Homo sapiens: one gene and its partners. The protein of the gene in region 4 purifies or fractionates together with the protein of the main gene of each other region. This does not show direct contact. Each region holds a gene or a part of one and is shown on either strand. Other genes may lie near its edges. The genes, in order: WDR62, SEC16A, PTPN2, KATNB1, TUBA3E, BTK and MPHOSPH9.

What was found.
Region 1: the proteins of KATNB1 (region 4) and WDR62 purify together in Homo sapiens (tandem affinity purification; one large-scale study listed by IntAct). This does not show direct contact.
Region 2: the proteins of KATNB1 (region 4) and SEC16A purify together in Homo sapiens (tandem affinity purification; one large-scale study listed by IntAct). This does not show direct contact.
Region 3: the proteins of KATNB1 (region 4) and PTPN2 fractionate together in Homo sapiens (co-fractionation; one large-scale study listed by BioGRID). This does not show direct contact.
Region 5: the proteins of KATNB1 (region 4) and TUBA3E purify together in Homo sapiens (tandem affinity purification; one large-scale study listed by IntAct). This does not show direct contact.
Region 6: the proteins of KATNB1 (region 4) and BTK purify together in Homo sapiens (affinity purification with mass spectrometry; 2 studies listed by BioGRID and IntAct, with this or other methods). This does not show direct contact.
Region 7: the proteins of KATNB1 (region 4) and MPHOSPH9 purify together in Homo sapiens (tandem affinity purification; one large-scale study listed by IntAct). This does not show direct contact.

Annotation. Positions count from the first base shown.
Region 1 is NC_000019.10:36,089,397-36,092,896, forward strand, and holds part of WDR62 (WD repeat-containing protein 62), read left to right. Parts: intron 1-1,048; coding exon 1,049-1,124; intron 1,125-1,803; coding exon 1,804-1,915; intron 1,916-2,005; coding exon 2,006-2,069; intron 2,070-3,292; coding exon 3,293-3,415; intron 3,416-3,500. UniProt on the Homo sapiens protein: Required for cerebral cortical development. Plays a role in neuronal proliferation and migration.
Region 2 is NC_000009.12:136,462,541-136,466,040, forward strand, and holds part of SEC16A (protein transport protein Sec16A), read right to left. Parts: coding exon 3,422-3,500; intron 2,023-3,421; coding exon 1,880-2,022; intron 1,201-1,879; coding exon 1,139-1,200; intron 1,062-1,138; coding exon 923-1,061; intron 593-922; coding exon 347-592; intron 1-346. UniProt on the Homo sapiens protein: Acts as a molecular scaffold that plays a key role in the organization of the endoplasmic reticulum exit sites (ERES), also known as transitional endoplasmic reticulum (tER).
Region 3 is NC_000018.10:12,811,238-12,814,737, forward strand, and holds part of PTPN2 (tyrosine-protein phosphatase non-receptor type 2), read right to left. Parts: intron 3,119-3,500; coding exon 2,966-3,118; intron 1-2,965. UniProt on the Homo sapiens protein: Non-receptor type tyrosine-specific phosphatase that dephosphorylates receptor protein tyrosine kinases including INSR, EGFR, CSF1R, PDGFR.
Region 4 is NC_000016.10:57,752,770-57,755,256, reverse strand, and holds part of KATNB1 (katanin p80 WD40 repeat-containing subunit B1), read right to left. Parts: intron 2,480-2,487; coding exon 2,329-2,479; intron 2,181-2,328; coding exon 1,990-2,180; intron 1,869-1,989; coding exon 1,738-1,868; intron 1,313-1,737; coding exon 1,262-1,312; intron 328-1,261; coding exon 260-327; intron 139-259; coding exon 19-138; intron 1-18.
Region 5 is NC_000002.12:130,195,640-130,199,682, reverse strand, and holds the start of TUBA3E (tubulin alpha-3E chain), read left to right. Parts: upstream 1-1,243; 5' UTR 1,244-1,322; coding exon 1,323-1,325; intron 1,326-3,311; coding exon 3,312-3,534; intron 3,535-4,043. UniProt on the Homo sapiens protein: Tubulin is the major constituent of microtubules, a cylinder consisting of laterally associated linear protofilaments composed of alpha- and beta-tubulin heterodimers.
Region 6 is NC_000023.11:101,355,192-101,358,691, reverse strand, and holds part of BTK (tyrosine-protein kinase BTK), read left to right. Parts: coding exon 1-75; intron 76-254; coding exon 255-382; intron 383-1,108; coding exon 1,109-1,183; intron 1,184-1,736; coding exon 1,737-1,908; intron 1,909-2,423; coding exon 2,424-2,640; intron 2,641-3,500. UniProt on the Homo sapiens protein: Non-receptor tyrosine kinase indispensable for B lymphocyte development, differentiation and signaling. Binding of antigen to the B-cell antigen receptor (BCR) triggers signaling that ultimately leads to B-cell activation.
Region 7 is NC_000012.12:123,205,642-123,209,141, reverse strand, and holds part of MPHOSPH9 (M-phase phosphoprotein 9), read left to right. Parts: intron 1-3,500. UniProt on the Homo sapiens protein: Negatively regulates cilia formation by recruiting the CP110-CEP97 complex (a negative regulator of ciliogenesis) at the distal end of the mother centriole in ciliary cells.

The DNA of each region.
Region 1 (3,500 bases), on a different chromosome or scaffold from region 4:
GCTGGGAAGGAATTGAGGGACCCAGCAGGTGTTCCTTCTTGGTTTTTTTTTGTTTTTGTTTTTGAGGCAGAGTCTTGCTCTGTTGCCCATGCTAGAGTGCAGTGGCACCATTTTAGCTCACTGCAACCTCCACCTCCTGGGTTCAAGTGATTCTCCTGCCTCAGCCTCCCAAGTAGCTGGAATTACAGGCGCCTGCCACCATGCCTAGCTAATTTTTTGTATTTTTAGTAGAGACGAGGTTTCGCCATGTTGGCCAGGCTGGTCTCGAACTCCTGACCTCAGGTGATATTGCCCACCTCAGCCTCCCAAAGTGCTGGGATTACAGGCGTGAGCCACCGTGCCCGGCCACCAGCAGGTATTTCTTAGAAGCTGGGCTCTCCCAAGCCTGGCCTCCAGGTCAGCAGAGGGCTTTCTTCTGGCTCTCCCTAGAGCCGGTGTGGGATGACTAAGGTGCTGATGTGGCACATAAACTCCCTCATTCACCCGTATTCCCTGAGCACCTAACTGGGCTGGATGGTGCTGGGATCATGGCAGTGGCCAGGATAGCCCCAGGCCCTCCTTCATGGAGCTCACAGTCCAGTAGAATGGACACGGCCACCTCACAGCCACAGACAGTGACAGAGTGGTCAGAGATGGGGGAGCCCAGGGGCCCTGTGGAGACACCTGACCCCACCTGCGGATCAAGCAGGACTTCCTGGAGGAAGAGACACCTTAGCCTGGGGAGGATGTGGAGGAGCGAGCCAGGGGGAGGCAGAGAGTGAGTGTGCAGAGGGCAAAGCAGTGCAAAGAGGCTCTGCACCCCTTCCCAGTTCTTTCTCATGCGGTGCCAAGCACTGAGCTTGCAGTGTGTGGGGGAGATGAACATTAACTCAGTGGATACCCCAGGACAACCTCAGCTTGAGATGGGGTTTCAGTTTCAGTCTAGGCATCAGATGGGGACAAGAGGTAGCAGGGGGCTTCCAGGGGAGGGGAGGACAGCAAGAGCCAGAGAATGAGGTGGTGGGGTAGGCGGGGCCCTGTTGGCCGCAACATGCCCCTACTTCCCCAGAGTCTACAACACTGTGAACGGGAAGCAGAAGAAGTGCTACAAGGGCTCCCAGGGTGACGAAGGGTCCTTGCTGAAGGTGAGGAGTTGGAGACCCCTGTCTGTCTGCTGCCCTGATGGGCCACCTATTGTGACGGCCCACACCTGAGACCTGTGCCCTTGGTCCTTCCTCAGTGCACCGCGCTGCCCAGCACCTTCTCAGGCCTGGTTAAACAAGGATGCTTGCGAGAGGGTGGGGAGGGTGACCCCAGCTGTGTTTCCTTTATTTACAGAGCCCTTCCCCAAGTGGGGCGTCTAAGTGGGTTCCATTTTGAGTGGCAGCAGGGTATGGTGGGAAGAATCAGAGGCATGAACTCCCCTCCTGGTTTGCCCACACCAGCCACGGGTCACTCAGGACAAGGGGGGACCTTCTCAGAGCCTCTGGTCTAGGACAGTTATGGGTTCAGGTTCTGCCTCAGGCTGACTGTGTGACCTTGGGCAAGCATCATCTCTTGAAATGCACACAGACAGCTTGTCTCATAGACTTGTTCTCTGGAGGAGTTCAGTTTGCACATGTTCAGTGCTTAGCACAGGGCCTGGCTACTGTTGTTACTGCTGCGGTGGTTGTTAATTTCTTCACGTGTCGAATGGGAGCGGGAGCTCCTGCCCTGCCAGAGTCCCATGTGCTGTGCATGCAGCACGGGGGAGGGAGGGGCCCAGGCCTCATCATAAGGAAGAAGCAGGCAGCTGGAGTGACATGTGGGTCCCTTTCCTGGCAGGTCCATGTGGACCCCTCAGGCACCTTCCTGGCCACCAGCTGCTCTGACAAAAGCATCTCAGTGATTGACTTTTACTCGGGCGAGTGCATTGCCAAGATGTTTGGCCATTCAGGTGGGTGTGCCTCTCTGCTTGGGATGCCTCCCCACCCGCCCACACCCTCTGACTCCGAAGGCAAGTGCAGCCTCTCTGCTTTGTTTGCAGAAATTATTACCAGCATGAAGTTCACCTATGACTGTCATCACTTGATCACAGTATCTGGAGACAGGTGGGACATGGACCTTTGGGAGAGTTGTGGCTCAGATACCATGAGCACTGCACTCAGCCTGCCTGTGTAGAGAGCATTTCTAAACTGCCCAGTTTGGATTGTGGGAGTCTTGGTGTCACACCCAGCCCTGAGTTCAAATACCAGCTCTAAGCTGGGCATGATGGCTCACGCCTGTAACCCCAGCACTTTGGGACGCTGAGGCGGGTGGATCACTTGAGCTCAGGAGTTCGAGACCAGCCTGGGCAACATAGCAAAACCCTATCTCTACAAAAAATTAGCCGGGTGTGGTCATGTACACCTCTAGTCCCAGCTACTCAGGAGGGGGAAGATGGCTTGAACCTGGTAGGTAGAGGTTGCAGGGAGCACAGATCATGCCAGTGCATTCCAGCCTTGGTGACAGAGCAAGACCCCGTCTCAAAAAAAAAACAAAACACTAAAAAAACATATCCCAGCTCTGCCATTTATTTTCTTGTCACCTTGAGCAGGTTATTTCCCCTGAGCCTCAGTTTGCTCCCCTGTAAAAGACACCACCGTTTACATTTACCTTAAAAATGGTGTGATGAGGCCGGGCGCAGTGGCTCACGCCTGTGATCCCAGCACTTTGGGAGGCCTAGGTGGATGGATCATCTGAGGTCAGGAGTTCAAGACCAGCCTGGTCAACATGGAGAAACTGTGTCTCTACTAAAAATACAAAAATTAGCTGTGCGTGGTGGCAGGCGCCTGTAGTCCCAGCTACTTGGGAGGCTGAGGCATGAGAATGACCTGAACCTGGGAGGTAGAAGTTGCAGTGAGCTGAGATCGCGTCACTGCACCCTAGCCTGGGTGACAGAGCAAGACTCTCTCAAAAAAAAAAAAAAAAGAAAATTGTATGGTGAGAAATGAATGAGATGATATACATACATTCTTTAGCACATGGGTGGTACTCAAGGAAGTCCCTTTTGTCACTCCCTTTGATTTACCCCAGTTCTTCCCCACAGCCCCCTTCCTCAGGTCTTGAGGCCTCCAGAACAGGCCCTGGTTTGCTGGGATGCCCCAGACCTGGGCCCAGGGTGTGGATGTGGCAAGTCCAGCACCCCTGCACTAAGCGGATAGGGGTGTGTTTTCCAGGAGCATCTGGAGAATGGGGTCCAGGCTGTGGTGTGGGTGGCTTCAGGGTCAGCCACGGCAGCGGCTCCCATGCTTACTCTTCCTCTGCCTTGTGTGTCTCTCTTTGACCTCCGCAGCTGCGTGTTCATCTGGCACCTGGGCCCGGAGATCACCAACTGCATGAAGCAGCACTTGCTGGAGATTGACCACCGGCAGCAGCAGCAGCACACAAATGACAAGAAGCGGAGTGGCCACCCCAGGTCCTGGCAGCCCCTGCCTGTCCACCAGAGGGATGAGTCCCTGCCAGGGCCCCATGGAGTGATGCTGGGGACACAGTGGTGGCCA
Region 2 (3,500 bases), on a different chromosome or scaffold from region 4:
TTTGTGAGAATGCCACAACTTGTGTCATGCACATTTCATCCGAGATTTGGCACACACAGCAGGGGCACGGCCTGTGCTCAACATGTGCATTTATCGAATAACTGAAAATTTAATCTGCAGGTCTCCAACACTGGAAACAGTTAGAAGGAAACCAACATTAACACCTCCAGAAGGATGGCATACAAGAGTCAGGCATTGTTCAGGAAACAGCAAGACCCGAAGCCCCACACTGCAGCGCGGATGCTCCCAAGAGGGGGCCACGTCCCTCCCTGAAGGCTGCAACCCCGCACCAGGCCCGACCCAGTGGACATGTGCAGGCGCCAGGTGCCATGATGAGGAGGCGCACCTTCTTACGGCCATACAGCAACAGCTCCCTGAACCTCTCGGTCTCTCTCTCGAGCGAGCTGGCGGCAGCCGCCGGACCACCAGTGAGGAAAGAGAGCTGGGCCTCACCAGACTCCTCCTCTTCCACCTGCTCCACTGCCTCATTCGTGAAATCAATCAGGTTTGCTTCATTGGGCGACTTCCCAGGAAGCCACACTGTTCTGTGGTCTCGTAACAGAAGCTCCGCAATGTCGGTCCCTACCACGGTCTGTTTGGGTCAACAGGAACAGGAAGGAGAACAACGGCTCTCAGGTGAGGACGCGTTGGACCACCACAGGCACAAAGCCCCACCCTGGACACAGCCAGACCCACAACTACCCGAAAGGCTGGCAAGGCTGGGCTGAAACCTCATCCCATCCCAACCGCACGTTCCCTCTCCCTCCCTACCCAGCCACTACAGTGTGCTTCCTAAGGGGGCCCTCGAGGCTCCCATAGCTGGCCACGCGGATCCCGCCCTGCTCCTTCGGGAGGCTGAGCATTCCCAAGACGAAATGAAGACCAGCAAGAAGAAACACTCTAGAAGTAGAAAGAAACATACCCCATTTTGTCTGCATAAGAGAACAATAAAATTCCAAAGAAGACTTGCAGACTCTTTGTCAATTAAGTTTTCATTCTGCAAACATTTCATAGCTTTGTTCTGTGCAAAATTAATGACATCCACCTTATGGGTGTCGTCTCTGCAGAAAGAACACACAGTGAGCAGTGATGTCTGCAAGGCCGGGCTCACAAAGAAATGCCTCAACAAGGAACATACTTGGCCAGGGGTCCCGGGAACGCCCGCATCTCCTCCTGCTCAGACGTGTGCTGCAGCAAGGCCTACGAGGAGAGGGCCGTGGGTCAGTGGCAGCCAGTGCGCAGCCACCCTGCTGGCAGGCCGGCCAACCCAGGCACGGATGCTGCCCGTGAGAGGAGAGGATGGCATGGCCCACCTGCCCCGCCCCACAGCAGGTGAAGGCTCTGTCGAGGCTGTTACATGGAACATGGCCTGTGTGGACCACAGCCATGATTTCAAACTTTATTTTAAGTAGTGAAATCCATTTTCTCTCCCCAAATACTGAGGCAGAACCCCAATACATGTGACAGAAGCCTGCAGAAGCTGCAGGAAGAGGCGCATGCCAGCCCCCGTCACCTCGGCAGCGCCGTGCACGTCCACCCCACCCGCCCCCCTCACCTGGGCAGCACCGGGCCCACCCACTGCATCTATCATTGAAAAGCACCAATAAAGCAAACATCCCCAAAACGAGGACAGAAAATGCATATACAATCAAACCACGTTGAACACCCAAGGCAGACGCTTACAATACTGACTTCTAGGAGGAAAAATATATGATCAAATAGAAGAAAAACCCTACAAATTGAAAATTCACAGGAATAAACATTTTCCAAGGACGTATGTCCAGAGACAAGGTCTGACAATTGAAGATGACAAACTGCAAAGCAGAGAGTTCCCCAGGGCAGCAGAGCAGTGACGCCACGCTTCTGCGTGTGCCATTACCTCCATGCTGTGGACCTCCACCAAGGCCGGCTGTCCTTCTGAAGGCAGATTGGGAATCACTTTGATAAGCTGACCGCCAGGGCCAAACCTGGCACAGACATGAGGCACTGAAAATTTTTCAGGAGAAGTTGGTCTTGATGAAACTGCATTTAAAATAAATTGAAAAAGAAACAATCAGCTTGTCACTGATGCTTCTGAGCCTAGATTTTCAATGTGCTCACACAGCTTAAATCACAGGTTAGATTTATCACGACAGACTTCCAACTCAAAAGTCGGTAATTGTTTAATATCATACTTAAAAGTAGAACTTCAGCATACGTCAGGAAAAGAAAAATGTCTGAATCATTAAGCATGAAAGCTGTTCCCTTGTACACTGAGAAAGCTCCCGCAACACCCTCATGAGCCGCCCTGAGGCTCCTGCCACGGTGCGTAATCCTCCCAGGCCTGGCCCACTCCCGAGCTCTTCCATTTTCACAAAATCAAATTCAGACTGCGATGACCACACAGCACCCAGCAAAAAGGACAGCAAAACACCTCAAGCAAAAAAGAAAATAAGGAGCCAGGCATAGTGGTGCATGCCTGTAATCCCAGCACTTTGAAAGGATCCAAGGCAGGAGGGCCACCTGAACCCAGGAGACAGAGACCATGACCGTGCCACTGCACTCCAGCCTGGGTGACAGAGTGAGACTCTGTCTCTTAAAAAAAAAGAAATGAAAAAATGTTAACTGAAACAATACTTTAAGAAAGTAAGGCCGGGCACAGTGACTCACACTCTAATCCAAGCATTTTGGGAGACCGAGGAGGATGGATCACTTGAGGTCAGGAGTTTGAGACCAGCCTGGCCAACATGGCAAAACCCCATCTCTACTAAAAATACAAAAATTAGCTGTGCATGGTGGCAAACACCTGTAATCTCAACTACTCAGGAGGCTGAGGCAGGAGAATCGTTTGAACCCGAGATGCAGAAGTTGCAGTGAGCCAAGATCACATCACTGCACTCCAGCCTGGGAGACAGAGTGAGACTCCATCTCAAAAAAACCAAAAAACAAACAAACAAAAAAACTCAGCCTACCATTAAATTCTGTAACTTTATATCTTTACGTATATTTCTGCAATTTGCCAAGAAAAAGCATTTGAGCATCCTGGAAGGGAACTCTGACTGACACGCGGGACAACTGCAGGAGCGGAGTCTCCAAGGGGAATGAGCAGCTCCCTCCTGCACGCCTGCTGAGCCACGGGGTCTGCGATGGGGATGTGATCAGGGGCTGCCCAGAGCCTGGATATGAGCTGTCCTCAGAGTCACACTTTAAAACGCATGTCGGGGCAGGCAGGGCAGCTCTCAGGCCTTAAACCAAACTGCAATCGAAGAGACAGCATCGGCCCGTCCTGACACACCCTGCTTCTCGGAAGGACGGATTGGGTCAGAGCCAGGCCAGGACATCACAATTCCAATCCCAGCCCTGACTCCCGTGTTCAGATGCCAGGCTGGGTGGCCGCCCCAGTGGGGTTAGCCGGTATCCCTCTGTCCTGCTGAGCACACACCTTGCTCCATGGCAGGCCAGACGGTGTCGGCAGGGTAGCCATACTCTGGGAAGCCGGGGCCACTGCTGAAATTGCTGCG
Region 3 (3,500 bases), on a different chromosome or scaffold from region 4:
TTATAAAGATGTGTGTTCAACAAAGTACCCCACAAAAATGTTAAATTGTCTCCAGAATTTACACTGGTCAATTTTTGAAGTTTCCACTCTTGACTGAGACCTAGTTATGTAACTTGGCCTTATAGCTGGACAACACTCAACAATGTCAACAAATAAGATGACACCAAAAATCAAGTCTCACTGGACCACTTCCCAGAATATGCAACAAATTCAGAATACGTCAACAAGGAAAGCACTCGGCAGAGAGAGAAATAAAAGAGATATTTAATGCTAGTGAATTAAAAAAACCCCACAAACCCAACAATGTCATTTTGCCATGGCTATGTTCAGCAAACTCACTCATGGCTATGTTCGACAGACTCATTCATGGCTATGATCAGCAGACTCACTCGTGCCTATGTTCAGCAAACTCACTCATGCCTATATAGGTTCAGCAAACTCACTCGTCTCTGTCCTCCCTGTGACACACAAGGGAGCCAGCACTCCTGAGTCACCTGCCTCAGGTCATTAATGCTGACTGGTGAAGCCAAGGAATTACATTTCACTAAACTATAACCTCAAAGGAGCTCTCATTTTGAGGCCTGGTACTGTTTCATCTTTCTTTCTAATTCTGTGCTCACGTTGCACCAACCCATGAGTCACTGCCACTAGGAGCCATGCCCCCCACACAATGCCTAGAACCCTAGCTCTACCCATTTCTCTCACTGAAGAAAGCTTTAAGCAATGCAATTAAACTTCAAATCCTCTGTAATTTGTTAAAAGTTTATCATTTACATTTAATACTTTATTAGTAATATCAAATTACCAGCTAGAGATCTTACAACATTAGTTCTGAATTGCCAAACTAGATATTTACTCTGGGGGGTTAACTGTCATCATCAATACTGGGAATATGCTAATAAATATGTGGTAATACCAGCAACCAGCTTAAGTATTTATGCCTGACCTTGTGCTGAAAGGCAATTGCAAATAGCCTATATGTCTATAGGAATGTCAAAGTCATTGGAAGTTTTCTGTAAATGAATACATGCTTTAAGATTATAATTACACATATTTACAGACTTAAGATACAATCACTTTGGGCTGGGTGCGGTGGCTCACGCCTGTAATCTCAGCACTTTGGGACGCCGAGGTGGGCGATCACTTGAGGTCAGGAGTTCGAGACCAGCCTGGTCAACACTGTGAAACCCCATCTCTACTAAAAATGCAAAATTAGCCAGGAGTGGTGGCAGGCACCTGTAATCCCAACTACTCGGAAGGCTGAGTGGGGAGAACCACTTGAACCTGGGAGGCAGAGGCTGCAGTGAACCGAGATTGTGCCATTGCACTCCAGTCTGGGCAACAAGAGCAAAACTGCGTCTCAAAAAAAGAAAAAAAAACCAGTAGCATGTGTGGTATGTATTTATTAATCCAACTTTATCAGTAATCACTTCATATGCCGATGGTCTAAATGCACCAATTAAAAAAGATTCTCAGAATGCCAAGACCATTTCTGCAGAAATTAACCCCTTGGAATGGGCAGCATGCTTTTCTGATCCTGAGTACCTGAAGGATAAAGATGTTTCCAATATCCTATCTGGAATAGGGGCAGAAAATGCCTTAGAATTGAGAGCCTGAGGACAATATCACACCAGATAAATTAACAGAAAAAAAATCCTTCCTAGCCACAAACTGCACTGTCAAAGACTCCACAAAAAAGTGTGTCCAGAAAAACTCATCTCTGTGATAAAAAAAGATCCACCCTCAGATAAAGTATGTATTCTAAAACTAAAGACACAAAACTTAAAAAAAAAAAAAGCAGTGGTAGGAAAGACACAATCCAAAGGACAATACATTTCCCTCCCAGTTACCCGTCTCATCACAGCCAGGAAGCAGGCAGGGAAGGCGGCATGCAGGCTGTGAAGGCATGGGGAAATCTGATTGAACTACTTTTCTTTTTGAACTCCAGATTTAAGTTGGTGAAAGCTCACTGTGATTAGAAAGGGAAATTTTCCTAATCTTAAACATCTGAAATAACTTTTACTTCACCTAAATCACTGATCACTGCCAAAGTGACCCTGGCAAATCCAGTGTTCCCAAAGTCTGGCGTCTGAAGCAGGACATGTTCTAATGGGCTGAGTTTCCCAAACATTGCGTATTTTGGCTCTGAGTGCCCTAATGTTTCTGTGCATTAAGAATATTTTAATGCTATTTAAAGATTTGGAAAAAATCTTTTTAAATAAACCTTTATTCTGACACCAATGGTCCGATCTAATTTACATTCTTATATTGGCTAGTAATCAGAGAAATGAAAGTGCTAGTAAATATGTTCACACATGAGAAACATAATGAAAAGACAGTCGATCTTCTTATATTATGCATCAACTTACAGTATCTGCTTATGTCCAATACTATGTGATTAAACCAGACAAAAAATGGAGTCTGTGGTTGTTTCTATTTTACATTTTAACTTAGTACATAACACAAGTTTCTGATCAGTCTTTGAACTTAGGTTCTACAAATATGCAGTAAAAATAGCTTAATGAGAATAAAGCCACCAACCAGAAGAATATAACATTTTGCTGGAATTTCATTATATCTGCCATAAATATTCAAGTTGCTTGTTGTTATAAAGTCAAATATCACATAAACCAAGTATCAGTGTTTAATGAAGGCAAAAGTATCTCAAGTTTCCAGTTACTTTAATAATTAAAAGATTAACCACCCCCAAAATGAAAAATTCAGTTTCTTTAATGAAATCTTGTTTCTACAAGGGCTTTTAAGTAACACACAGGATTTAACCTGAGGCTGAGTATATATGAGGAAGCTAGCTAAAATTTTACAATTTTAAGACAGCCAGCTGGATTTACCACAAAAATTCAAATACACTCTTTGAAACAAAGACAAGGGCTCAAGTGGAGTGCAGTTATTTGATGCTATGTGTATTTAACAAATAGATATGATTTAAAACCTGTATGAAGTTTACCTGTATACTAGAATCTCCCTTTATACATTTTGCTCCTTCTATTATAGCCATGTATGAGAATCTCAGTTGATCTGGGGTCTGAATAAGACCCATTCGGTATTTTCTCATGTTCAGTAACACTTGTTTTATGTTAATATCATCTCCTTTTTCCATCTGCAAGAAAGGCAAAAAATGAGACAAGTCTTGTTATTGGAACCCAGGAAACAGAATCAATGCAAGATCATTGCTAAGATTTTTGCTATGCATTTTCTCCTCTGAAAGAACAACGATAATTTAACCCTCCAGCTATAACTGTTATGTACACAACAACTATCCCAGCCTACTCATCCCTCCCCACATCTCAACCCCTCAAGTAGTTGGAGGACTTTGATTCTTTAGCTGATTCACAACTGATTCCAAACCAATCATAGTAATCTCATTCCTTCTGGCCAGTCATTGGTTAAAGGAAGGATTTATAACCAGTTCTGGCTAGTATAAGGACTATTTTTTTTTTTAAAAGTCATGGCAGGAGTCAACCTTTCTGCTCATTCCCCTT
Region 4 (2,487 bases):
AGCTGGGCTCCTACTCACGGGCAGGAAGTCGGAGGCCTTCAGCCCGATGGGCTCGTTCCGGGTGGCAGGGATGATGGCAGGCTCAGCCTTGGGTGCAGGTGTGGAAGCAACCACTGGGGGCCGGGGCAGGACCTCCAGCTGAAAGTGTGAAACTCAGCGGTTGCCGGCCTGGGGCCTCCCTCTCTGCCTCCCGAGGCACCCCCAACCCTGGGTCAGGACCTTCTCTAGGCCCCACACCATGCTCCCTCCATGGACATACATTTGGCACCGGGAACTGCACATCCATGGCAGGGCTGGGCTTTGCTGCCTCCTTTGCTGTGGCTGCGTCTGGAGGCAAAAGGAAAAGATGACTGGGTCCGGCCAGAAGGGCCTGGCAAGAAGGGCAGGGCTCAGGGCGGGACTCTGGGCAGCATCTGCAATGGGGGGATGGAGCAGGAGCATGGGGGAGGCTGCAGGCCAGTGGCGTGGGGGTTCCAGAGGACCTGGGGCAGGCCTGGACCTGCCTCCTCCCTCTCCCCCAACTCAACCTTAGGTCTGCCTGTGGGTGGGACCCAGGGGGCTCTAGGATGTGGCCATCCTGTCCCTTCACTGGCATGTATGTGGAGGGGGCTGGGATGACTGGCAAGATGGAAGTGGAGGCTCCTAGGAAAGCCAGGACTGACGGCAAGGACGGTCCCTGAGGGGAGGGCAGGGGTACTCTACAGGACAGGTGGCCCCATGCCTGCCCGTTCTCCAACCACAGTGCAGATCATTTTTCTCCCTTCTTAATCCAAACCCCCAGCTGAGGCCTTGTGGGCCTGACCTCTTGCTGGGACTCGCCCCAGCTCACCTCCTCTCAGCTCCCTTCCTGCCAGAAGCACTTCTCTCTCTCTCTTCTCACTGGCCCCCAGGCCTTGACAGGCATTGGGCCTCCTGAGAGCCTCCCGATCATCCCGTCTACAGCAGACCCCATCTAAGGTGGGCCCCCAGTGACTCCTCTCCATCCTCCACAGCCCGAGTGCCCCTGGCAGGCCCCCCAGTGTGGTGGTGTCCATGTTTGTCCCCCACACACCAGGGCACAGGCTCCTACGGGGGCACTATCGGTCTTGCAGGGACCTGGCACATAACAGGCAGAGGGCAGAGACCCAGCGGGAGAGGGTGTGGGTCGTGTCCTGAGAGGGGAGGGTCCTGGGAAGGGGCTTGTTGGGAGGGTTCACAGGAAGAGAAGATGAGGGACGGGGGGGCATCAGAGACCTTGGGAAACCAGGCTCACCCAACTCACCGTCCTCTGGGGGTGCAGGGAAGGGCTCACTTCTCCGGGGTGGCGTCCGACCTGCAGAGGAAAGAGGCCCCTGGCTGTGAGCGCTCCTGGCCAGGCCACCTGGGACCCAGGGCCCTGTCCAGAGTGCGGGGGACGGAGGGTAGCTCCCAGGCATGCGGCTGCAGACTGTGGACCCTGCTCCTGGTCCCAGGAACCCTCAGTCCTGCCCCTCCCAGCCCACTTGTCCCTGGCAGGGCAGGGACTGGGACACTGAGCAGCTGCTGGGCCGCTGCTGGGGAGTGCCCAGGCCCCCCTCTCAGTTCCATCAGAGCACAGCCTGGCAAGGCCCAGGGAACGTGAGGACAGGATACGGAGCCCAGGTGTGGGTTAGGAGGAAGTTAAAGGGATGCGGAGCCACAGCAGGCTACCCTGGAAGGACCCCCAGCCTCCCTTTCACCGATGGGGACGCTGGGCTGGGGGCGGGAGCCCGGCCTCACTGATGCTGTTCTTGGGCTGGAAGATCTCGTTGTAGTCCTCGGCGTTCTGGATCTCCGCGCGGGACTCGCGCTCGTCCCGGTCATCCTCGCTGCTGGGGCTGCGGCGCTCGCTCTCTGAGTTCTGCTTCACCCTGGGAGCGTGAGGCCAAGCCCAACGGAAGCAGGTGCCCTGTGAGGCCCAGGGCTGGAACTCCGAGGCTTCCCCTGTGACAGTCCCTCTCCTGGGCCCCCGAAGGCCCCCCAGGCCCTCACCTCTGAGGCTTGCTGCAGGTTGTGCTGGGCCGCTCATAGATGCGCCGGAGGGGGGCGCTGGGGTTGGGCAGTGGCTGTGCCAGGGGCCGGTGGTCCTGCACAGGGTCCCGGGCCACCGTGCCAGTCCTGGTGACACGCGTCAGATCCACCACGTAGGAGGAGACGTTGCTCTGGGAGAAGGCCACACCTATCTGCAGAAAGCGGAGAGGTGGGGCTGGGACTGCAAGCCGAGGGGGCAAAATCCCAGCCCCAGTGTGGGGGTAGGAGGAGGGGCCTGGGCTGGAGGGAGGCGGGTGGCCCTGTGGGAGTGGGGGGCGGTGGGTGCCATGGCTCTCTCACCAACTGGTCATTGCAGATGGCCAGGTCGGCCACCTTGCCCCAGTTGACGAGGACCACATCAAAGCACCGCTCAGGTTCCCAGCCGTAGACACGCAGTGAGTCCTGGCAGCCGCTGTACAGGCAGCAGCCGTCTGGGTTGAAGAGGACGCTCCTGGGCCA
Region 5 (4,043 bases), on a different chromosome or scaffold from region 4:
GGTAAACAACTTAGGAACTGCCTCTTCTTTTCCTTTAAAAACCCACTTATAACTGCTGCTAATATTTTAAGACAACTTGCATCTCCAGGGTTGCACTTCTCAAACTTGGCCCAAATAAACTATTTTTTTTTTCAAGATGGAGTTTTGCTCTGTCACCCAGGCTTGAGTGCAGTGGCGTGATCTCAGCTCACTGTAACCTCTGCCTCCCGGGTTCAAGGGATTCTCCTGCCTCAGCCTCCTGAGTAGCTGGGATTACAGGCGCATGCCACCATGCCTTGCTAATTTTATTTTTTGTAGAAACGGGCAAGGTGGGACTCACCACGTTGCCCAGGCTGGTCTCGAACTCCTGACCTGAAGCAATCCTCCTGCCGTGGCCTCCCAAAGCACTGGAATTACAGGCATGAGCTGGTGTGCCTGGCCCAACCTCTCCACTTACGTTAATTTTGCCTCCTTTCTTCCTTTTTTTTTTGAGACAGAGTCTGGCTCTGTTGCCCAGGCTGGAGTGTGCTGTGGCCCAATCTCGGCTCACTGCAACAACTGCCTCCCAGTTTCAAGCGATTCTCCTACCTCAGCCTCCCGTGTAGCTGGGATTACAGGTGCCTACCACCAGCCAGGGTAATTTTTGTGTTTTTAGTAGAGATGGGTTTTCACCATATTGGCCAGGCTGGTCTCGGGAACTCTTGACCTCAAGTGATCCACCCGCCTCGGCCTCCCGAAGTGCTGGGATTGCAGGCGTTAGCCATCGCGCCCGGCCCGTTTTCTCCCTTTGGGTCAGAAAAGTGATTGAATCCTGCCACTTCCCGGGTGCTGGGTGGGAACAGGGAAGAGGGGGATAATTGCGGTGCTGCTGTGACTTGGGTAGATGGCGGCAAGGCCTCTCAGAGGTGGCCTTGTTTGCAAAGATCTGAATTAGGCAGGGAGAGGAGCAGGCCTGGGGCAATCAGGGAGGGGCAGTGGCACACTGGGAGCAAGGCAATGTTCCGCGACCCACAGAGGCAGCGCAGTAGCTGTTCCAATCCTGGTCGGAAGACACCCCGGAAATGCCTCAGCAACCGCGCAGCCTTTGATGACCCCGCTGCCTTCCCGCCAATCCTGCATCCAATCAGAGAGCATCCCCACTACACGTGTTGAGCAACGGCCAATCAGAACTGGGATCCGGCCCTCGGCCTGCCTCCCAGGAACTCCGAGCCAATGGCGGCCTGGCACCGGCAGGCCAATCCTGTGCGGCGCGCGTGGGCAGGTCATTGCAGTTGGGCGCTCAGCAGCTGTGGCAGCCGGTTGAGGTCTGGAAGTAGCGTTGGGCTGAAGCAGCGGAGTTCGCCATGGTAAGACCCGGGTCACTCCCGCCCCGCAGATGCCCAGGCAGACGAAGTTGGCCTCGGGTGGACAGAGGGACGTTGTTGCGGGCCTGGGCGCTGAGAGGAGGCCAGAGAAGGACGCAGGGTCTAGTGCGGGACAGGAGGACACGGGATCGTTTCCTGGATCTGCAGGTCCCAGGGCAGGGACGGCGGCTTTTGTTTTAGATGAAGCTGCCGGCCTTTAGTGGACGGGGACCATTGACGGTATCCCGTCCCCCAGAGAGCAAATAGTGGCGTCGCCTCCTGAAGACAGGAGGGCGCTGCTCCCGCTTCACACGTCTTTGTGCTACTGGAAACAGCTGAGGAGCTGCAGGAGCCTTCGGTGACGGGGGTTGGGGCTGTGGACATTGGTCAGATGAGGAATTAAGGCTCAGACGCTGCTGCAACATTGCCTTGTTCACCTAAAGGCAACCGTTAGGCCAGGCGCGGCGGCTCACGCCTGGAATCCCAGCCCTTGGGGAGGTGGAGGCGGGCGGATCCCCTGATGTCTGGAGTTCAAGATCAGCCCGACCAACATGGCGAAACCCAGTCTCTACAAAAAAATACTAAAATTACCCGGGCATGGTGATGCGAGTCTGTGGTTCCAGCTACTCGGGAGGCTGAGGTGGGAGGATCAGCCGAGCCTGGAACTTTGAGGCTGCAGTGAGTCGTGATGGCGCCAGTGCACTCCAGCCTGGGCCACAGAGACCCTGCCTCAAAAAACCAAACAAAAAAAGCAGCCCATTAACATAACAGATTCCCAAGTCCCAAGTCTGAATAGCTGTGATTTGTCAGTTATCCTTTTTTTCCTTTCTTTTTCTTTTTTCTTTTCTTTTCTTTTTTTTTTTTTTTTGAGACAGCACTCAATAAATGCTCTGTTGCCCAGGCTGGAACACAGTTGCAAGATCACGGCTCCCTGCAGCCTTGAACCCCTGGCTTCCAGCAGTCCTCCCGCCTCAGCCTTCCGAGTAGCTGGTACTACAGGTGTGTGCCACCACACCTGGCTAATTTGTAAATTTTTCATAGGGACAGGGACTCACTATGTTACCCAGGCTGGTCTCAAACTGGTCCCAAGTGATCCTCTCACCTCAGCCTTCCAAAGTGCTGGGATTACAGGAATGAGCCACCACACCCAGCTTGGCAGAGTTTAAAGAAACCACCAAAGGACAGTGCAGTGTCCCAGCACTGATGATGTCTGGGAGCCATTACACCCGTAGGCTTCAAGGGGTAGAGAGAGGGCGTGGTTACAAGAAATTAGGAGGGTAGTTTTATGAAGAGGGCAGCCTGCCAAAAGTGTAGCCTTGAGAGGGATTCAGGTCACCCACAGCAGTTGAGCAGGAAGGGGCCAAGGAGGGAGTACCCTGGCACTGCTTTCCTCCAGCCCCCCAGTATCCCACTGCTGCCTGCCATTGACCAAACCAGCAAGAAGCCAGAGGGCGAGGAAGGCCTCTGATGCTGTTCTCAAGGGTCAGCCTTCGAGAGCACAGAGCAGGTGGTGAATGATGGACGGGGTAGAACTGGGGGGCAGAGAGAGGACACACACTGAGCACCTGGGCTTGGACCATGGTGACCTGGGACCTACTCTGTATTTCCTTACCCAACCCGACTACCTTATCCTTTGATCAGGACATAATCAAAAACTGCTACTTATTCTTCAGAGAATTACTGTGACGGGCTATAATGTGGGGTTGATTATTGACATTAAATGGCTTCCAAGTTTTAAAATAACCTAAGTTTTGTGTAGTGGCAAACAGGTTCTAGGGCTACTTCTAGAACTTACTAGCTAGTATGGTTTACAGCAATTAGTTTTCACAGCGATAAAGGGATCAGTCACTAACCCTCCTAGGAAATATCGATTGTGAAAGCGCCAGATACTGAAGCACTATATAAATATTAAATTAGAATATTTTGCATGCCATATAGTTTCAAGTTGCCTTGAAATGAATGGGTTCACATTTATGTTCCGGTTCACAGCGCGAGTGTATCTCTATCCACGTGGGGCAGGCGGGTGTCCAGATCGGCAATGCCTGCTGGGAACTGTACTGCCTTGAACATGGAATTCAGCCCGATGGTCAAATGCCAAGTGATAAAACCATTGGTGGCGGGGACGACTCCTTCAACACGTTCTTCAGTGAGACTGGAGCTGGCAAGCACGTGCCCAGAGCAGTGTTTGTGGACCTGGAGCCCACTGTGGTCGGTAGGTGCCTGGGCACTGGATGGCAGCTTTCCTGAGAGGGTGGGAGAGCATTGGTAAAGCCCCGTGTGGGCTCCTTTGAATCCTCCTGCTGAAAGGATGGGATAGACAGGCATATGCCCATGGCATTGTTAGGAGAGAAACTGAAAGGTTTGTGATGAAAGTGTCTGTGAGACTCGGCTCCTAATTTAGGAAAACCTGACCTACAGGGAAAAGCTGCTTTGCCAGCAGTAAGATGGGCTGTGAAGAGATTCCCTCATGGCTGCCTCAGCCCTGCTCAGGTGGCCCTGCCTGCAGGGTGCAGTGGCATTGGTTCCCTCCCGAATGCTGTGCATTCTCTTATGCTGGTGCACGAGAGTCTTGACCTGCATCTTAGGCATAGAAGGTAAGTACAGAACAGTCATTTGCTTCCTTCAGATTCGCAGCCTGAGGTAGTTTCCAAGGAGAGCTACAAAGAGGCAGCACCTTTCAGTGGCCCCCCAGGAGATGACAGCATCACCTGAAAGCCTGTG
Region 6 (3,500 bases), on a different chromosome or scaffold from region 4:
AGAAGGAGGTTTCATTGTCAGAGACTCCAGCAAAGCTGGCAAATATACAGTGTCTGTGTTTGCTAAATCCACAGGGTGAGTGCTACTATTCCAAGGCCCTGAGGACAAAGAACAGGGGTACCCTCCTAATAGCTCCTTGATGCTGTGCCCGTCCCACTTCCTCTGTCTCTGAAACTCAAAACTCATCTCACTTCACTTCCTGGGTTCTGTTGACCTTTGTGCCCAAGTTACTGACTAAGCATCCACTTCTTCAGGGACCCTCAAGGGGTGATACGTCATTATGTTGTGTGTTCCACACCTCAGAGCCAGTATTACCTGGCTGAGAAGCACCTTTTCAGCACCATCCCTGAGCTCATTAACTACCATCAGCACAACTCTGCAGGTGAGTACCAGGGGCAACTGAGAAGGGAGTTACAGACACCAGGATAAGCAATGCAGGACAAGGTGATAAGAGGAAGAATCTGCCTCACAGGACAGTGTGAATTCACTGTGAAAGGAAATCCCTGTGATACTGGGTAGAAGCTGGTAAAGAGGTGGTCAGAGGCAGACCTACACCCAACAGGGACTGACTCTTTATTTGGTGATTGATGTTCAGTGTTAAGAGAAGACACAAAAGAGGCTGGTGACTGATTCATCAGCAAGTATTCATTGAGTTCCTACTGTGTACTCAGCGATTTCCTCAGTTCTAGAGGAGAACACGGGAACATTCTGAGTCGAGGTCCTTGTCCTCAAAGAACATACAGGTTAGACAACATCAGAAGAAAGTTTATAAGCACTGTAAAATTTCTAAAAACTGAGACATTAGTGAGGGCATGGATATGGGGGAACAGCTTCATCAAGAAGGTAGGATGTGAGCTAAGCCTGGGCTGGGAGGTGGGAATATATTCAGTTAGGCAGTGTATTTCAATTAGTATTTTCTCTTTTTTGTCCCTGAAAAGTATTTTGTGAGAGGAGAAACCTCTGGAAATATGTGGGTTCATGGAGGTCTTCTGGGATTCAAAATGTACTAGAAAGATACACACCGGAAGTGTGAGGCTTTAAGTGAGGATGTGTGAGGCATCCCACCTCCTACACCACACCAACAGCATGACCTCTCTCTCTGTTTCAGGACTCATATCCAGGCTCAAATATCCAGTGTCTCAACAAAACAAGAATGCACCTTCCACTGCAGGCCTGGGATACGGTAACTCCTTATTTCTCTGGGGTAGGGTGGACTGGCCAGTTGCAAAAACTACCTTTGCTGGCCTTGCCTTAGGGAGTGTCCTTGAGGTACACTGTTCTGCAGCAGCTGCCTCAAGGACGCTCAAGACAGATCCAAGCAAAAGTTATTCACTGATTTTCTTCCTCTAGTGGCTACGACTGGGACTGCAAAAACATAGATTCATAAAGGGCTTTGTCGTTGTCTTGGGTCTTTTTGTCTTTTATTTTTAATTGTGGGAAAATTTTCAGTACTATCCCTGAGTTCATTAACTACCATCACTAACATAATCATAAAGGGATTTGGGGAGGTTGCTTAGTCTATCTTCTTGCCTTATGGCCACCTTGAACCTAAAATTCCCAGATTCCTCTAACCAATGAATCCCGTTTCTGAGATTGACTTAAGCAAAGACAGATTAGTACTTCTAAAAATTTCCCTTTTACTAGTTTTCCTATTTCTACCCCAGTAGGGATTTTTGTCTATTGTAAGAATTATACATTCATGACCCCAAAGAATCACACCAAGACTTTATTGTTAGGATCATGGGAAATTGATCCAAAGGACCTGACCTTCTTGAAGGAGCTGGGGACTGGACAATTTGGGGTAGTGAAGTATGGGAAATGGAGAGGCCAGTACGACGTGGCCATCAAGATGATCAAAGAAGGCTCCATGTCTGAAGATGAATTCATTGAAGAAGCCAAAGTCATGATGTGAGTTATAGCCCAAACTCAACTCTCAATCTATTTGCTGGAGTCTAGGAATTCACACAACAACCCACTGAGGCTTAAAGATGACTTACAGTAAGAGAGGTTTGGGACGAGGGACTGAAGTTTACCTTTAACTGGCGGTAGTCCTAAGTGCTAAGATAATAGTTTCTGTGCCTTAGATATTGGTTGAGAATAGTGGTGATCATGGGTGTGTACCATCTCAGTAGCATTTGGGGGTAGATGTAGAAAATTAAACTTTCAAGAGAAATATTCTAATTTAGCCTTAGCGTTCTTTCATTCCTGGACTTGTTTCTTTTTCAATTGATGGGCTCCAAATCCCTGCTTGCTTCCACATTTTAAGCACTTTTGAGATTTAGGGTGGGAAAGAGGAAAATAAACTTGCTGGTGTGACCCCTTATCTGATGCTCTACTCCTAGGTCAGCCCCTTCCTCCCCAGCCCCTTTATTGCTATTATGCAGAGCCAAAAGGAGAAGACTAGTTCCTTGCCTTTCCTGTAGGAATCTTTCCCATGAGAAGCTGGTGCAGTTGTATGGCGTCTGCACCAAGCAGCGCCCCATCTTCATCATCACTGAGTACATGGCCAATGGCTGCCTCCTGAACTACCTGAGGGAGATGCGCCACCGCTTCCAGACTCAGCAGCTGCTAGAGATGTGCAAGGATGTCTGTGAAGCCATGGAATACCTGGAGTCAAAGCAGTTCCTTCACCGAGACCTGGTGGGACCTTAGAAGGATTGGCCTAGGACAAAGGGCTGATGGGGTGGAAGTAGCAGTGGAAGATATATCATACATGGTTGAGGGGGGCTGCTGGTGCCATCATTTCAATTTTATCTAGAAAGTACTATAAGTTAGGCGTGCCTCTGCCCCAGTGCTGAGCCCATCAAATATCTCCAGCCTCAGCTCCATGAAGTCTGCCGTGGTGGGAATCAGAGCAGTCACTCACTCCCAACCCCCTACCACCCACAAGAAAATGGTGGGGTCTTTCAGTGGCCATTCTGGATTTGGAACAGAAGGGACTGTGCTTCCCAATGGGACTGCTCCTGGCATGGGGCCATCATTTGGTTCCTTCAGAGTCACATACTGGGGCCTGTGGATGCATTTGGCCCACATGTGTGGGTTTTTTTTATGTTATATAATAATTAGCAAACCCTTAAAAAGAAACATTTCGCTTAAAAAAAAAAAAACCCTGGAATTTCCAGCTTCTCTTGAAAATCTACACCGTCTGGAAATACCAGGTCCACATTCTCACGAACCGCCTCCTTTCCTCTAGGCATGTACTCTCCATTTCCTGCAATCTCGATCCACTTCACTTCACTCTTACTTAACTTGCCTGGCCCCTGTAAGCATCAGAGTTTGCGCCCCTGTTTCTTTCAGTCAGGCCAAGGCTCAAATTGTCCTAGTCTCACTGGCAGAAAAGCAGAAAGCAAAAAAACTTACTTCTCATTCTCCCTTCTTTGTTTTTTGTTTGTTTTGTTTTGTTTTGTTTTGTTTTGAGATGGAGTCTCGCTCTGTTGCCCAGGCTAGAGTGCAATGGCACCATCTCGGCTCACTGCAAACTCCGCCTCCCAGATTCAAGC
Region 7 (3,500 bases), on a different chromosome or scaffold from region 4:
GGCCAACATGGTAAAACCCCATCTCTACTAAAAACCCAAAAATTAGCTGGGCGTGGTGGCATGCACTTGTAATCCCAGCTGCTCAGGTGGCTGAGGCAGGAGAATCACTTGAACCCAGGAGGTGGAGATTGCAGTGAGCCAAGATGGTGCCACTGCACTCCAGCCTGGGTGACAGAGCGAGACTCCGCCTCAGCAAAAACAACAACAGAAAAAAGTGGAATTAAAAATTCCACTTTTAAAAAATTCTGGCTGGCTTGAGCTGGGCATCATAGTTTACACCTGTAATCCTTGTACTTTGGGAGGCTGAGGTGAGAGGATCACTTGAGCCCGGGAGGTCACACCATTGCACTCTAGCCTGTGTGACAGAGTGAGACCCTGTCTCAAAAAGGGAAAAAAAAAATGCTGGTTAGTGTTTTGTGAAATTAAATGGATTGTGCCTACTATTTCATATGTAGTAGGTCCTCAGCTATTAATTTCTTCCCCTTTTCCCAGAATTGGTGTTGATTTTTCATTTGTTACACCTCCATTCATTTTCATTTGTTATGCGATCCATTTCCACCATAGTTATGAGCAACTTAATTTGCTGTATTCTTTTTTTTTTTTTTTTTGAGACAGTTTCACTCTGTCGCCAGGTTGGAGTGCAGTGGTGCGATCTTGGCTCACTGCAACCTCTGCCTCCCGGGTTCAAGTGATTATCCTGCCTCAGCCTCCCGAGTAGCTGGGTCTACAGGCACATGCCACCACGCCCAGCTAATTTTTGTATTTTTAGTAGAGACGGGGTTTCACCATGTTGGTCAGGATGGTCTCGATCTCTTGACCTCGTGATTTGCTTGCCTTGGCCTCCCAAGTGCTGGAATTACAGGCATGCACCACTGCGCCCGGCCAATTTGCTGGATTTTCTTTGAGTAAGAAAGGTACATTTAAAAAAAAAATTTTTTTTTTTTTTTTTTTTTGAGACGGAGTCTCAGTCTGTCACTTAGGCTGGAGTGCAGTGGTTCCAGGTTCAAGTGATTCTCCTGCCTCAGCCTCCTGAGTAGCTGGGATTATGGGCATGCGCCACCATGCCTGGCTAATTTTTGTATTTTTAGTAGAGAGGGAGTTTCGTGATGTTGGCCAGGCTGGTGATCCACCCACATCAGCCTCCCAGAGTGCTGGGAATACAGGCGTGAGCCACTGCGCTGGCCCATTTTTTTTAAATTTAAGAGCAAAGAAATAAAACTATTCAGTAAATGTACATCAATGTACCTATTTCACCTCTGTATTTTTTTTTTTCTTTTTTTTTTTTCTTTGAGGCGGAGTCTCGCTCTGTTGCCCAGGCTGGAGTGCAGTGGCGTGATCTCAGCTCACTGCAATCTCTGCCTCCCAGGTTCAAATGATTCTCCCACCTCAACCTTCCAAGTAGCTGGGATTACAGGCACCTGCCATCATGCCCAGCTATGTTTTGTATTTGTGTAGAGACAGGGTTTCACCATGTTGGCCAGGCTGCTCTCGAACTCCTGACCTCAGGTGATCCGCCCGCCTTGGCCTCCCAAAGTGCTGGAATTACAGGCATGAGCTAGTGCACCCGGCCTTCATTTCTGTATTTTGATCAGGTAATGAAAGAGTACCTGGGGAAAAGGAGAGATACTATTAAAGTAACCAAGAGACATAAAAATGAATGACATATACAGACAGACAGATGGGGCAATGTACTTGTAAGCATCAGAGTCTCAGTGACGGAAACCAATGTTCCGTACTTCATGAAAGGAACAAAAAGACACAGGTCAACACAGAGAAATGAAGTATGAGGGGGGTAAGATTGTAGGGGGCAAGGCAGGCTTAGTAGGCTTTGCAATTGCAGGGCTCACAGTGTTATCTGATCTTGAACATCAGTAAGTGGATACTGCATTTTGTTGACTCTACGGTATTGTCAACTTTAAGGTTTCCCATTTCATGTTCTACCAAGAAAAATTTATAAATTAGACTGATACAATGCTTTTTTTTTTTTTTTTTTTTAACCACTTTAGAATTTATATTTTATTCTTATGGAAAGAGTCTTTAGACTTAAACATAGGTTTTATTATGTATCAGTAACTTTTTTTTTTTTTTATTAGAGAGAGGATTTTTGCTGTGTTGCCTAGGCTGGTCTCAAACTCCTGGGCTCAAGTGATTCCCCTGCTTTGGTCTCCCACAGTGCTGGGATTACAGCTGTGAGTCACTGTGCCTGGCCTATTATATAACTTTTTTTTTGAGACGGAGTCTTGCTCTGTTGCCAGGCTGGAGTGCAGTGGTGTGATCTCGGCTCACTGCAACCTCCATCTCCTGGGTTCAAGCGATTCTCCTGCTTCAGCCTCCTGAGTAGCTAGGACTACAGGCATGCACTACCATACCCAGCTAATTTTTTTGTGTTTTTAGTAGAGACGAGGTTCCACCATGTTGGCCAAGATGGTCTCGATCTCCTGACCTTGTGACCCACCTGCCTCAGCCTCCCAAAGTGCTGGGATTACAGGTGTGAGCCACTGTGCCTGGCTTATTATATAACTCTTATGCATACTTTAAAAAGGAAAACATAAGTGAAATAAAAGTGGCTAAAATTCTTTCCTTCTCAGAGTGTTATACTCTTCTCTTCTCATCTCTTCTCTTCTCTTCTCCTCTCCTCTCCTCTCTTCTCTTCTCCTCTTCCTCTCTTTCTCTCTTTCTTTCTTCACGGTCTCACTCTGTTGCCGAGGCTGGAGTATAGCAGCTTCATCATAGATAACTGCAGACTCAACCTCCTGGGCTCAGGCGATCCTCTTGCCTCAGCCTCCTGAGTAGCTGGGACTACAGTCATGTGCAACCACACCTGGCTCATTTTTTTTTTGTTTGTTTGTTTTTAGTAGAGGCAAGGTCTCTCTATGTTGCCCAAGCTGGTCTCTCAAACTCCTGGACTCAAGCAATCCTCCTGCCTCAGCCTCCCAAAGTGCTGGGATTACAAATGTGAACCACTATGCCTGGCCATTTCTCTCTCTTCACCTTGGTGTTAGTTTCTGTGTTTTCCCACGTTATCTTCCTCTAGCCCACCAAGAGCATCAGCGATTCTGCATTTCTTTAAAAAGAATAGAAAGGCCTTTCTGCTTTTTACCTGTCTTAGTAGCATGTAGGACTAGCCCGCTTTGGACTCCCATGTGGAGTATGTTGCTAAACGTGTCTGATTCACCGTTCTCTTAAATATTGGTCCTCAGGAGCTTCATTGTAGTGTGTAGGTTTGTCTTCCAAGCTGCTGATACCTATTTGGCCAATTTTGAGCTCATGAGCAGGGAATGACAGTCTGTCACAACCACAACTTGGCCCAAAGCAATAGCAATTATAAAATGCCATTAATTACAAGAGGCATCCCTACTTTAGAGATGTTAACATGACAAGAACATAAAAGTGGTGAAAAGTGGTACTTTTCTATTCCCATGAGCTTTGAGTAGAATAACCCCAACTATTCCCCCAGACCACCAGGCTGTGGCCATAGCTGGAGTAATGCTACTCTTCAC